Homo sapiens: one gene and its partner. The protein of the gene in region 2 interacts with the protein of the main gene of each other region in a biochemical or structural test. Each region holds a gene or a part of one and is shown on either strand. Other genes may lie near its edges.

Evidence for each region.
Region 1: the proteins of PKNOX1 (region 2) and PBX1 form a complex in vitro, tested with the Homo sapiens proteins (2 studies listed by BioGRID).

Annotation. Positions count from the first base shown.
Region 1 is NC_000001.11:164,554,979-164,562,207, forward strand, and holds the start of PBX1 (pre-B-cell leukemia transcription factor 1), read left to right. Parts: upstream 1-4,205; 5' UTR 4,206-4,844; coding exon 4,845-5,035; intron 5,036-7,229. UniProt on the Homo sapiens protein: Transcription factor which binds the DNA sequence 5'-TGATTGAT-3' as part of a heterodimer with HOX proteins such as HOXA1, HOXA5, HOXB7 and HOXB8. Binds to the DNA sequence 5'-TGATTGAC-3' in complex with a nuclear factor which is not a class I HOX protein.
Region 2 is NC_000021.9:43,012,539-43,019,562, reverse strand, and holds part of PKNOX1 (homeobox protein PKNOX1), read right to left. Parts: intron 6,496-7,024; coding exon 6,325-6,495; intron 2,656-6,324; coding exon 2,556-2,655; intron 1,431-2,555; coding exon 1,333-1,430; intron 1-1,332. UniProt on the Homo sapiens protein: Activates transcription in the presence of PBX1A and HOXA1.

The sequences.
Region 1 (7,229 bases), on a different chromosome or scaffold from region 2:
GCTAATTTTGTATTTTTAGTAGAGATGAGGTTTCTCCATGTTGGTCAGGCTGGTCTCGAACTCCTGACCTCAAGTGATCCAACCTCCTTGGCCTCCCAAACTGCTGGGATTACAGACGTGAGCCACCGCGCCTGGCCAATAATGACTAGTGTTTTTAAAATGTGATTCAGTGGGCTTCACTTATTATTCTGAAAAAAATACAGCATGATTACTAGCATCATTAATTGTTTTAAAATATATTTGTTAAATGTTTATTATAATGAGAGCCCTGCTGAGATATGGAAGGAATAAAAAAGCATTATCCATTCCTTGTCACAACCCATAAGCTATGGAAATTGCAAGTATTAGTTTCTTTTCAGAAGTTTCTAAATGCAAATAAAATATGATTATAATTTCTTTGTTAATTTAATTATTTTTTGAGACAGGGTCTCACCCTGTTGCTCAGCCTGGAGTACAGTGGCATGATCATGGCTCATTGCAACCTCTACCTCTCAGGCTCGAATGATCTTCCTGCTTAAGCCTCCTGAGTAGCTGGGACTACAGGATAGTGCCACCATGCCCGGCTCATTTTTAATTTTTTTTTTTTTTTTTTTTTTTTTTTACAGAGACAGGGTCTCACTATGTTGCCAGGCTGTTTTCGAACTCCTGGGCTCAAGCAATCCTCCTATCTTGGCCTCCCAAACTGCTGGGATTACAAGTGTGAGTCACTGCGCCTGGCCTGAAGATTCTATTTCACCTATGGTACTTCCTCCTCTTTATGTCCTTTATTCTCTGTAATGTATTAAAGAATAAGAGTTTTTACATCATACTTTGTCTAGTAATTCTACTTTTAGGGACCTTGTTTTCTTCATCTGCAAAATGGAGATTGTAACCTCATAAGGAAGTTATTTAAATGAAGTGTTAGATTGTTAAAACTAAGTGGTAATGTACAATCAGTGCCTGAAACACAATCAGCAGTCAACAAATTCTATTTATATCTATAATTATTATTATATTAATGCCATTGCATTTTTCTCATTCAAGCTTGAAGACATTTCTTTTATCCTTCCCACTCACATAAAATCAATTATAAATTTCTATTGACTCTGTCTTGAAGATCTTCCTCAAAATGGTCCTCTCTTTTCCATTTCTACTGCTGCTTTCCTAATTTCATCTTTCCTTGCCAAATGATTTGGGTAAACAGCTAATTGTTGCCCAAAGTGTTGAGTAACCAGATAATTCTTCCCGAAACATGCTCTTCTGTTCCTATCTGTGAAAGAAAGAAACAACTTACCTCAGTGTATCCCTAATGTCCATCAAATAAAACACAAATGTTTCTGTTAAAAGTCTTTCCAGTTGGGCGCGGTGGCTCACTCCTTTAATCCCAGCACTTTGGGAGGCCAAGGCAGGTGGATCACGAGGTCAGGAGTTTGAGACCAGTCTGGCCAATACAGTGAAACCCCACCTCTACTAAAAAAAAAAAAAAAAAAAAAAAAAAAATTGCCAGGCCTGGTGGCGGGTGCCTGTAGTCCCAGCTACTTGGGAGGCTGAGGCAGGAGAATCACTTGAACCCAGAGGGTGGAGGTTGCAGTGAGCTGAGATCGCTCGACTGCACTCCAGCCTGAGTCACAGAGTGAGACTCTGTTTCAAAAAAAAAAGTCTTCCCAATCACACCTAATAACATTTCCATTGTGCCTGAAGAGATAGCCTGTACTTCCGTCAAGTTCATTAACCTAGCCCTCCAGATCCAGTTCATCCTTTAGATCCACCGCGAAGCCTTCTATTCACTCGAACTGGTTACTCCCTTCTCTCATCTCTTATAGGATGTCTAAGGGCTTGTTATCACTTCTATAGCATTTATTATGTATTGAAATATATCTGGGCAACACTCTAGAGTAATGGTTAAAAGCATAGCTATCGGGGTAAGACAGTTGCAATGATTAAATTAACAAAACACCTTGAATATAATACTTAATTATAGTATGGAGTCAATAAATATTACCTATTTTTAGTATCATTGTGTATACACATCTTATTTCCCTACTAAAATGTTCCTAGATGACAATGATCTTCTGGAATTGATGGTACCTTTTCCAGTACTTTGCCTAGAAAGATTTTATTAGGTTTGCAATTAGAATTAATTACTCACAAACTGATTTCTTATAGACTCTAGGTTGACTTCTTTTCATGCTTTAAAATGTGGTAACTTCGTCTCTGTAAGGGATATGCTAACTCTCAATCACTGTGATTGATATGTGATTTGAGTATATAGTTTTGTGCTCAACTTTTGATTAGTGTTAATTTTTAAAAAAACAGTTTAAAAATCAGGATATGTATGTGAATAAAACAATTGTTATTAAGTAATATAACATCATAATTACAATTAATACTCTGTATTGCATGCCCTCATACCAATAAGTGCCAAGTAGCTTGCTAAAAACTGCTTTGAAATGCTTGCATCAGTGCTCCTTATCTTGCCAAACTTGTTTTGCGTAATGATTGGTGAGAAGAATAACATTTTATTTGAGGATCTCGAAGCACCTGGCAAGGCTGCTTTCCATTTTGCAGATTGGTTACACTGCGCTTGCAGATTGGTTACACTGCGCTTTGCATTTCCTTTGCTATACTGCCATCCAGGAAGAGGGCTGGCTACACAATAGAATATTTTATATTACAAAATATTCTGGACATTTCCTAAGTAATTGGCCTGCTATTTTATCTTATATTCATTGTGACTGTGTACACAGTCAGATTTTTCCCTCTCACTTTGCCCAATGAAAAGATTGGAAGCAAATTTGTGTCTGTCTGGAGCTATGATACTGGACCTTAGTTATGACTTTTGTTGGCTTTTTTCTTGATCCCATTGTATTTATTTTTTATTTTTTCCTACCCATTTTCAATTGGAGTTGTCTTGTTGGAATATGTACCCTTTTAAGCACCTCAAGTTTCCTTTCAAACTGGACAGGCAATAGACACATAACTAATTTTTAACACTATTCACACATTTCTGTTAGACTGAAGCAGATTGTGCAGTGGAAATACTAGGCCTTTGGAGGGAGTCACACTTGGGTTTAAATTCCAGCTTTGACACTTAATAACTGTGGACCTTGGACAAATTATTTAACCTTTCTGAGTTCCCTCTCTGTAAAATGGAAATAATAATCCATAACTCACAAAGATGTCTTGGGGATTAAATAAAATAACTCATGCAAATTACTTGGTGCATAGTAGGCATTCAATAAATGTCAGTTCACTTCTCTTCCCAGTTAATAATGCTTATTAGACTATATTAAAAACTAGAACTAGACTGTGATAATGCATTTCTTTATTAGGTATTTAAGCCAAATAACTAATTTCCCCCGGGGGAAGAGAGAGAAATGTTGAATTAGTTTCATTTGGTGAACTTATTTATTAATCTTTCTTTTTCTTGAGCATTTTTCAGTTTCATAGTCCATAATTTAGTTTTCATGCAGCAAAAATGACACAGTTTGGTATTCTTTTCACCTTTACTGTGCTAGAATTGTTTTTTTAAATGTATCTATTATTACATCTGCCACTTATTAGAGATCTTTATTAATTATATTAACAGCTCGATTGTGTTTCATAACTACGTCGTGCTGACAAACTTGTGCTCTCAGCAGTTTCCCTGAGGTCTAAGCATTTAAAAGAATCAAGTTTTAAATGACAATGCCACAGCAAAAGAAAAGCAGGGGTGGGCGGGAAGACGCACACCGTCTGTGTTCTTTCGTGTTAATTTTATATGTTTGCATTTAAGTGGAGCCACATTTTCCTCAAGGACGCAACCTAAGTAAGGCGAGCAGGGAAAGTGGAAACTAAGTGAGCTGGAACTACAGTACCATTGCACCTTTAAGGACTGGAGACTTGCTATTAGCTCGGCCTCCTTCCCGGCCCACCTCTGAACTCTGATTGACAGGGCGCCGGGCGAGGAGGAGCTGAAGGAGGCTGGAGAGGAGGCGCCGTGAGGAAAGTAGGGGAGGAGGGGGCCGGTCCTTTATCTGGTGGCCAATCAGGGAAGCGGGGAGGAGCTCCAGGCGCCCTCCTCCCTCCTCCTCTCCCCAGCCTCCCGGCTTCCCCGCCCCCTCCCCTTCCCTTTGCCCCCTCCCCTCTCCTCCTTCTCGTCCTCCTCCTCCTTCTTCTCCTCCTCCTCCTCCTCCTCTCAGGCTGTGGTTTTTCTGTATATGTTTCTGGAGTCCTGAGCCTGAGCTAAACAAAAGCAGGAGGCTGACGGGGCTGCTGGAGTTTGCAGAGACACGGAGGAGGAGAGAGCCTGTGCTTTGCCTGCCGCCGCGGCTGGGGGAGATCTGGCTTTTGCAACAGCCCACCCCCTTTGAGATCACTCTGGCCCGGAGTGGGGGTGGGGGGCAGCGGGGGGTGGGGGGGGAAAGTTTGCATTGCAATCCCCCTGCCTTCCTCTCCTTTCTCCCGATCAATGCATATTTGCAAAAGGATTAAGCCACAGATTTAAGCGCCGGGAGCCCATTTCTGCCTTGCAAAGGAGACCGGACTGAAAAACCTAAAGCCAGCTCTGATTTCTTTTCGCCAAGTGGGAAGGTGGTTTATTTTTCTTGCTTTTTGGAGTCAACACCCTTCCCCACCAGCCCTTATCCCCACCCTCACCCCGCAACCCCTTCACGCCCCCTCCCCCTCCCCCTCCTCATCCTCCCACCATCCTCTAAAGAGGCAAAGGGATTTTTTTTTTCTTTTGGTCTTCTTTTTTCCCCCTTCCCTGTTTATCCTGAAAAGGATTTGAAGACAAGCTTGAAGGATAAAAAGCCTTGGTGCTTCCCAGGAGCCGAGCCGAGGAGCAGAAGAGGAAGAGCCGGGGGCTGCCGTAGCCTTTGGAGATGGACGAGCAGCCCAGGCTGATGCATTCCCATGCTGGGGTCGGGATGGCCGGACACCCCGGCCTGTCCCAGCACTTGCAGGATGGGGCCGGAGGGACCGAGGGGGAGGGCGGGAGGAAGCAGGACATTGGAGACATTTTACAGCAAATTATGACCATCACAGACCAGAGTTTGGATGAGGCGCAGGCCAGGTGAGATGGAGGCTTTTCTTTTCCTTTCTTGGGGTTTTTTGTTTTTCTTCCTCTTGCAGGGGGAAACAATGGGAACCGAATCACCACAGCGCTTTTTTTGAAAAATGTTATTTCTTTTCTCATTTTGACAAGCAACTACATGGCGGAGGAGTAAAATTTGAAGGAGCGTTGTTATCGAAAGTGTAATCGCCCATGCCGAGATGTGGCTGTGTACATATTTGTGTGTGTGTGTGTGAATATAGGGGTATTCATTTATATCCACACAAACACACAGGCATGCCGAAAATACTGCCAACTGATCCAAAAGCGGCCCTCGGCACTTTTTACTGCTTTAAAAAAGTATCAGAGAAAGCAGAATTGTCAAGTTTTGAACAGCATTCCATGCCTTCTTGTTGAGGGGACTCTGTAACATTACGAAATAAAATGTCCCAAGAACACTTTATTTGCAAATTTAGTTGACTCCTTACCTAATTCAGCGAGTTTGATTTTCTTTCTTGACTCTCCCGTCCAAAATTAATTTTTATCTTTTCTCCTTTCTTCCCCCCCTACCCAAAATACAAAACAACAAAAAAGCAGGGTATTTCTTTGTCAGTACTTGTCAGCTATCCAGAAAATATTTTGCATTCACTTAATTTTGTTTTTTTAAAAAGTTGATGAAAAGGTGATTTTGTTTTTAGGCATATTTGTTAGTTTTAAGAGACTCAGATTTTTAGTTTAACTTTATTGTCTCCTAATTTCAGCCGGTTTACTAACCTTCCGTGACACAGACAGCTATGTAGGGTCCTTTAAAAAGGGGTGGGGGGACAAAAATCAAGCATGCTCTTTTCCCCCATGCTTCTTTCAGGACCACTTAGAAATGAAAGCATTTATGAATTTTATATATTTCAGTACTATAGGACATGAAGGTCTTCATTAAGGAAACATAATAAACTGTGTAGCCTCTCAAGTTAATCCACTGCCAGGTATATGGTTCTCTACTTCAGGATTTTACAGTAAATTCTCTTTTAAAGTAAAACATAGACTAAGTGACAACCCGCTAACAGCTTGCCCAAGGCCGAACTCAAAAGGAAGAATTTTAAAAATCTAATGACCACATATGTCTGTACAATTACCCAGCTTTGTTATATCTCCGAAGTAGCGTTTTTCTCTTTGAAAACCCTGTAAACAAATATACGCAACTCCTATACTTCAGATGACTTGGTTATATGGAGAAGACATCATTATGTGTATTTCTGTCTACGTGAAATAAGAATCTGAGTTGAGAAAATGAGAGGAAGCAGTTAAAAACATAGATGTTATGAATTATACTCAATTTTAGCTGCAAGCACATGCAACATGTAAACTCAAAAGTACTAAGGTTTACGGGTGTTTGAAAACTTGGAAATGTTGAAAGACTCAAAGTATCCTAAGTTTTGTTTAAATAGGGGAAATTTTAAAAATTAATTGGTGCTCTCTTTGAATTTTATTATCTGAAGAAAAGCTAATAGGTATGGTAAGAGGAAGATTTCCCACTGGCAATTCTCTTTTGAATTGGAACATTTTTCTCTATTATATTGTTCTAGAAGAATACTCTCAGACATACCAATAAACTGGCTTAAAAATAAGTTTGTGAAGTGGAAGGGGCTAGTAAGAATAGATACTACTTTTTTGATGTTCAGTCTCTCTTCTTTTGTGAAACTGTGGACAAACAGGGCTTGGCGACTTCCCCCTTTCAATGGCCTAGATGCAGAGAGAGATCAGATACAATTTTGGGATGGGGAAATTTTCAGTTCTTCCTCTGTAGCTGGCTCCATTTGTGTGCTGTGGAAATACAATATTTTTATAAAGCTGTGTGAGAATTTTTGTTTGCATTTGGGCCTATATATAATAATAGAATTAATTAAAACTATTTTAAAAGACCCAGGAAAGGTCTTTAATACTTTAAAGTATTTTCCATCTTTTTTTTTTTCTACCCCACATGAGAACTTACTAAAATCAACGCTAAGCTTTCTTTTTGGATAAACAATGTAACTCCACTTAGTAGATAGTATGTCCTTTTTTCCTTTTTCTAGTCACACCTTTATAATGTGTATTTATTATTTACAAAAGTAAACCATTAATATTTTAGATATAATGTATGTGTTCATTTTGATAGTCCTGAATTTTGACTTTATTACTCCCCTGCTGTACAGTACATAGGGCATGTTTCTGATCT
Region 2 (7,024 bases):
TCAGAAAAACAAAAGTAATGCTTTCTCAATGTTGGGTAGAAAGGATTTTCAACCCAGAATTCTACAAGTAAACAGACTGCATATCAAATATGAGATTAAAATAAACTCATTTTTAGGTTTGCAAAGTCTCAAAAAAATGTGTGTTTTTTTTTTGTTTATTTTATTTTATTTGAGATGGAGTTTTGCTCTTGTTGCCCAGGCTGGAGTGCTGTGGCACGATCTCGGCTCACTGCAACCTCCACCTCCCAGGTCAAGCAATTCTCCTGCCTCAGCCTCCCGAGCAGCTGGGATTATAGACATGCACCCGACATCCAGCTAATTTTTGCATCTTTAGTAGAGACGGGGTTCCACTATGTTGGACAGGCTCGCCTCAAACTCCTAACCTCAAGAGATCCACCCATCTCGGCCTCCCAAAGTGCTGGGATCACAGGTGTGAGCCACTGCACCCGGCCAGAATCAATGTTTTTTTTTTTTTTTTGAGATGGAGTCTCACTCTGTCGCTCAGGCTGGAGTGCAGTGGCACGATCTCAGCTCACTGCAACCTCTGCTTCCCGGGTTCAAGCGATTCTCCTGCCTCAGCCTCCCGAGTAGCTGGGATTACAGGCGTGCACCACTGCACCCAGCTAATTTTTGTATTTTTAAGGACAGGGTTTCACCATACTGGCCAGGCTAGTCTTGAACTCCTGACCTCGTGATCTGTCCACCTTGGCCTCCCAAAGTACTGGGATTACAGACGTCACCGTGCCCGGCCCAGAATCAATGTTCTTAAAGTAAGAACTGATAACACACACCAAAGACGGGCAAGGCTCAGCAGCCGCAGAGATAGCGCCACTGCACTCCAGCCTGGGTGACAGAGAGGCCTGAAAGCCCTGGCCCAATGACATTGTCATGATGGAGGTGTGGGCCAGGCTCACTGGTCTGAAAAGCTTGCCTGGCAGTTCTGCCGTGCCCTTTGTGGGGACCCTGGGGAGTGTGTGCCTACAAGACCTCTGCCCCTGGTGCACGTGCACATGATCCAACGTTAGCACTGGATAACTCTGTGTGTGTGTGTGTGTGTGTGTGTGTGTGTGTGTGTGTGTGTGTGTGTGGGTGGCAGGGGGTGGTTATGAGTGACTTTTTTCCTGTTCTTTCAGAATTTTCTGAACTTTGCAAATTCTCTACAATGCGAGAGATAAGAGTACAAAGAAACAAAACACTGACATTCAGAGAAACCAGAAATTGCTACACAAGACAAAGCTCTTCAGGCAGAGGGAAGGGCTCATGCTTGTTCTACCTGTGCCCCTATGTGGGCAGCACTCGCCCCCAAAGCCTTCCATAAAATGGCGCACGCACCTGGGAGTTCTGGATCCTAATTGTCCCAGGCGACAATGTCTGTGTGACCACTTGGCCTTGGGGAGTGACGACCGTGACAGGCTGATACACTGTGCCACCTCGAAAGGGAGAATAAAAATATGAGGCTGCTTTTAAGTCTCAATGATTTAAACCATTCTTCTTTTTTTTTTTTTTTTTTTTTTTGTAGAGACAGGGACATTGCTTTGTTGCCCAGGCTGGTCTCTAACTCCTGGCTTCAACTGATCCTCCTGCCTTGGCCTCCCAAAGTGCTGGAATTACAGATGTGAGGCACTGCGACCAGCCCTCTTCTTGATATACTTACAAAAGGAATAAAATCCCTGGTTTGATGAGCTTTTTAATCATTTCAAAAGATCAACAATCCTTTGCCAGTTGACTTGTCACTATAAAGTATCAAAACAAACTCCCTGGGTGGGCTACTCGGGCACCTGCAGCAGTGGGTGGGCAGGTGGGTGGGCGCTATGTGCCTGGCAGCCCACACAGCCCGGCTCACACACCACCAACTGACCTGGGGTGTGAGGGCTCCCTTCCTTTTGCTAGCCTCTGCTTTCTACTATTTCCTAAAATTAGCACATGTTAAGGATTTGGCCAAGGGTACTAAATAATAACTATTTTAATTCTAGTTATATTTTTGGATCAATGGTGCTTTTTTTTTTCCCACTGAGGTTTCCCTTTGTGCTATTATGTGAGGTCTTTGGTGTAAATTTCTACCCCTCCCTCTTTGCCGTGTCCCATTTCCATGATGCTTTGTGTTTTCAATGTTCTCTACGCATCAGGGAACTCTGGAATCTGTCCCTTTCCTGTAACGGTTTTGTTCTACAAGTAATACCAATGCTAAGACTGCATTTTTATTTGTCATCAATTAATGATAAAACTTAAGATTTTCACGGTGCTATTAAAAGCACAACAAAAAGCTATGTTATTTGAAAATGACAACTGGTTTTTGGTGTATATTTTCAATTCCTACATAAAACCTTTTTTCTTTCCAATATATTTTTGGTAGAGAAACAAAGAAACACAATCTGCATAAAATATTTGTTATTGAGTATTAACAAGAAAGAGGCATTCAGAGACCTCTAGCTTCTAACATTGCTATATTAGAAAATGGCATGAACTTGAAATTATATTTATACTGTCATTCTAACACACAGGACCATTTTCTGCAAAAACTCATGGAGAGTGTGTCCATTTTTCTGTCATCGTACCTGCCACCGTCGCCATGGCTACGTTTCCCTGCTGCAGCGCGGACGCCGGCACCACAATTCCCTGAGGGCTGATGGTGCCTGTGATGGCACTTTGAATCTGCTGCAAGTCAGAACACACATGTTGAAGGAATTACTAGAAAACGGAAAACCCATGTTTAAAACTTTAACATAAGTAGCATAATGACACCATTAAAAAAGGAAAGAGAAGCTTGAGGGAAAGAACATCCTCAGATGACGCGGCTTCAGAATGCACGCAGCACACACGGAAAGCAAGAGATGTTCAACTGTGTATTAAACACAACAAGCCAGCCTGCAACGTCAGCCTGCACTGTGGCTTCCAAAAGATTATCTTCATCTCACTGCCATATTCCACGTGCCTTACAGCCCAGGAGTATATCGAGGAAGACCCTGCTTTCTGATCACACATCTTTTTCATTAGACTTGGCTTGGTGGACTCTTGAGTTTTCCATGAACCAAGCTCTCCCTGACCGATAAGAGCATTCAAGAGATTATAGCACAGGCCTGGGAGGCACTAGAAGTGACCAGGGCTGAGGTATTCCAAGCTGTGCTGGGGAGTCAGCCCCTGGCACCCACCTTGACTCTTGACCCCGGCACGGACTAAGTGTGATCTTGGCTTTCCCCAGTGTTCTTGCTTGTACAGTGCTTGGAACTGTGCCCGGCCTACAGCGAGCCCCATGCAAATGTTTCTACATGCCCCATGGAGGACTCTATGCATCTGGGGTTAGATCCACATGGGCCACTTTATCCACTGACTGTGACGCCTGGGTGGGCAGCTGGCAGGGGAGAGGAGCCTCCAGTGCCGGGCCTGGCACACTCATGTGCCCTGACATGTGAGCAGTTACATAGCATAAGGGGACGCCACCCCAAGGCGGTGATTCTGTGGGCCATCATCGAGCGGAATGTGTAAGCTTAGTGGCTACGCTTAAAGCCTGCCACATTAATTAGGCTGTAATAAAAGTTAAGCTAGTCAAATCAATCATCCCAGCTTCCACCTTAAGATCTTAGAAAAAGAGGAACATCATGAACCGAAAGCAGAAGAAAGGAAATAATAAAGATCAAGGTGAAATCAATGAAACTGAAAACAGAAAAACAACCAAAAAAATCAATAAAACAAAATACTGTTCTTTGAAAATTACATAAACCTCTAGAAAGACTGACTAAAAAAAAAATAGAGACACAAAAGATCAATATCAGAAATAAAACAGGAAGAGATCACTATAGACCCTGCTAACACCAAAAGGCTATGAAGAGAATACTAGACCAACTCTAAACTCCTAAATTTAACATCTTAGGTGAAATAGATCAATTCTATTTCTCAAACATTTAAGAAATAACACCAAGTCTACATAATCTCCAGAAAAAAATAAGAGGAGGGAATACTTCCCAATCCATTTTATGTAAGTTTGTGTATTTTGATACCAAAACCAAAGACAGTATGAAAAACAAAACTATACACCAATATCCCTTACAAATATAGACAAAAATGCTGAACAAAATATTAGCCAATAGAATTCAAGAATACATATGAAAAGAATTATGTGCCATGGCCAAGTGGAGTTTATTCCAGGAATAGAAGGCTTGTTCAATATTCAAAAAACCAATCCATGTAATGTCCATTATTAACAGGCTAAAGAAGAAAAATCACATAATCATATCAATCAATGCTGGAAAAGCATTTAACAAAATTGAACAAAATAAAATCTCTCAGAAAAAAAGCAATATAGGATAACCTCCTTAACTTGATAAAGAGCATCTAGAAAGAAACCTGCAACCAACATCATCGACAGTGAGCGACTGAAAGGTGTCCCCTAAGGCGGTGACAAGGCAAGGATGTCTGCTCTTGCCACTCTTATTCGAGATGGCACAGGCCAGGAAAGGAAATGCTTGGGTATAATTCTAAAAACGCATGTACACAACTTATGTGTCAAAAACTACAAAGCACTGATGAATGAAATCAGAGTTGTCAATCAATGGAGAGACATGCCATACCTGTGGACTGGAAGACTTAATGCAGTAAAGATGTCAATTCTCCCCAGATTGATATACAGGTATAATACAATTCCTATCAAAATCTAAGCAAGATGTTTTTGTAGCTCTAGACAAGAGCATTCTAAAATTTATGTGGACAGGCAAAGGAACCAGAACAGCTAAACAATTTTGAAAAGGAATCACAGGGTGGGAGGAAACAATGTGCCCAGCTTTGAGAGTTATTCTATAGAGAAATCCACTCAAAATGGATCACGGATTTAAATGCAAAATGGACAACTATAAAACTTTTGAGGCCAGGCATGGTGGTTCACACTTGAGCCCAGGAGTTTGGGACAAGCCTGGGCAACATAGTGAGACCTTGTCTCTATTTAAAAACTTTTAGGAAAAAACTTAAGACGAAGTCTTTGGGACCTAGGGTTAGGCAAAGAGTTCTTAGACTTGACACCAAAAGAATGATCCATAAAAGGAAAACCTAATAAATTGAACTTTATTAAAATTAAAAAGGCTGGCTCTGAAAAAGACCTGTTAAGAGGATGAGAAAAATACTTAGCTACTATAGACTTGGAGAAAACACTTGCAAACCACATATCCAACAGAGAACTAGTATCTACAATAAGCAAAGAACTCTCAACACTCAGAAGTTAAAAAAAAATCCAACTAAAAAATGCGCAAAAGACGGCCAGGCGTGGTAGCTCATGCTTGTAATCCCAGCACTTTGGGAGGCCAAGGCGGGCGGATCACGAGGTCAGGAGATCGAGACCATCCTGGCTAATACGGTGAAACCCCGTCTCTACTAAAAATACAAAAAATTAGCCGGGTGTGGTGGCAGGCACCTGTAGTCCCAGCTACTCAGGAGGGTGAGGCAGGAGAATGGCATGAACCCAGGAGGCGGAGTTTGCAGTAAGCCGAGATCGCGCCACTGCACTCCAGCCTGGGTGATGGAGCGAGACTCTGTCTCAAAAAAAAAAAAAAAAAAAAGGCAAAAGACATAAGCAGCAGACATTTTATCAAAGAAAATACACAGAGGGTATAATAATGTTCAACATTATTAGCCATCAGGGAAATGAAAATTAAAACCACAAAGAAATATTAATATCACTACATATCATCAGAATGGCTAAAACACAATAGTGCTTCCGCATGGATGAACCCTCCAGGCATTCTGCACAATGAAACAAGCAAAGGATCCAGAAGGACAAACACTGTACGATTCCGCTTAACATGAGAGACCTGGAGTCATCGAATTCACAGAGACAGACAGTAGAACGGTGGGTTCCAGGGGCTAGGGGAGGGGGAATCCGGAATGAGTGTTTAATGGGGTCAGAGTTTGAGTTTGAGAAGATGAGAAAGTTCTGGAGATGGATGGTGTTGATGGTTGCCCAACAATGTGAATAAACTTAACACCATTGAACTGTAAATTTTAAAATAGCTAAGATGGTAAATTTTATATTATGTGTATTTTACACAATTTTTCAAAAGAATAAGTAAAATATTTTCAGAAGAAATAAAAGAAAGAAATGAATGGAATTGTGCCTTCCATAAACATGGGACCGGGGGCCCAGTATGCAGATTGAGGACTCACTTCATAATCTGAGGGAGTTCATTCCCAAACCAGGCTGGGGTCAGAGACCTAGAGGGTCCTTCTTGTAGAAAGTCATAAAGATGACCCAGTGAATTCTGAAAGAGCTGGTGGTCTCATGACTCAATGCAGATGTTCACAGTGGCAGAGAGGGAAAGCGAGACCCCCAAATGTAAGTACCTGGGACTGCACTGGTGAGTACGGGCTTCCAGGCTCTCCACTCAACAGAGTTTCACTGTTCATTTTTGTTTTCAGACAAGCAATGTATCGACTGCAGAAATCTTTGCAGAGTTCGTTAACCTTTTCCAGCTCAAGAAGATGAATGCGCAAAACCTGGATTGCTTTTACCATCTAGAGCAGAGAAAATGAAGACTTTCAGAGAAAAAGGTGGCATTATTGTAAGTTATCATGATCCTACATACCAGTTCTTAGTCATTAGATAGAACCATCTCTACTGCCAATAACCAAAGTGGAATAACATCAGAAATCCTCTAAACTGATGTGTTGTTCCGGTGCCACTGACCTGGGCTTTGGTGTTTGGCTGCATCTGGTGTGCAGGGAAGACAAAGGCGCGTGGTGGTGACCTCGGTGCATCCCAGTGCTAGGTGTGTGGGCTGTGAGCCAAAGCCTAGCCCTTCCACTGATTCGCTCTGTGGCAGGCAGGACAAGTGACTCACCCTCATCTACTCCTGTTTCTACATCCACAAATAGTGATACATCCACACTCACCCTAGGCTAGTGCTACATTTTCATAAAGTTCCATTTTGGTGTCTTTGCCTAGTTCTAGATCCTCAAGATTTTCTCTTGCGATTTTTCTAAAAGTTATATCATTTTGTTTTGTTTTGTTTTTTGAGACAGAGTTTCACTCTTATTGCCCAAG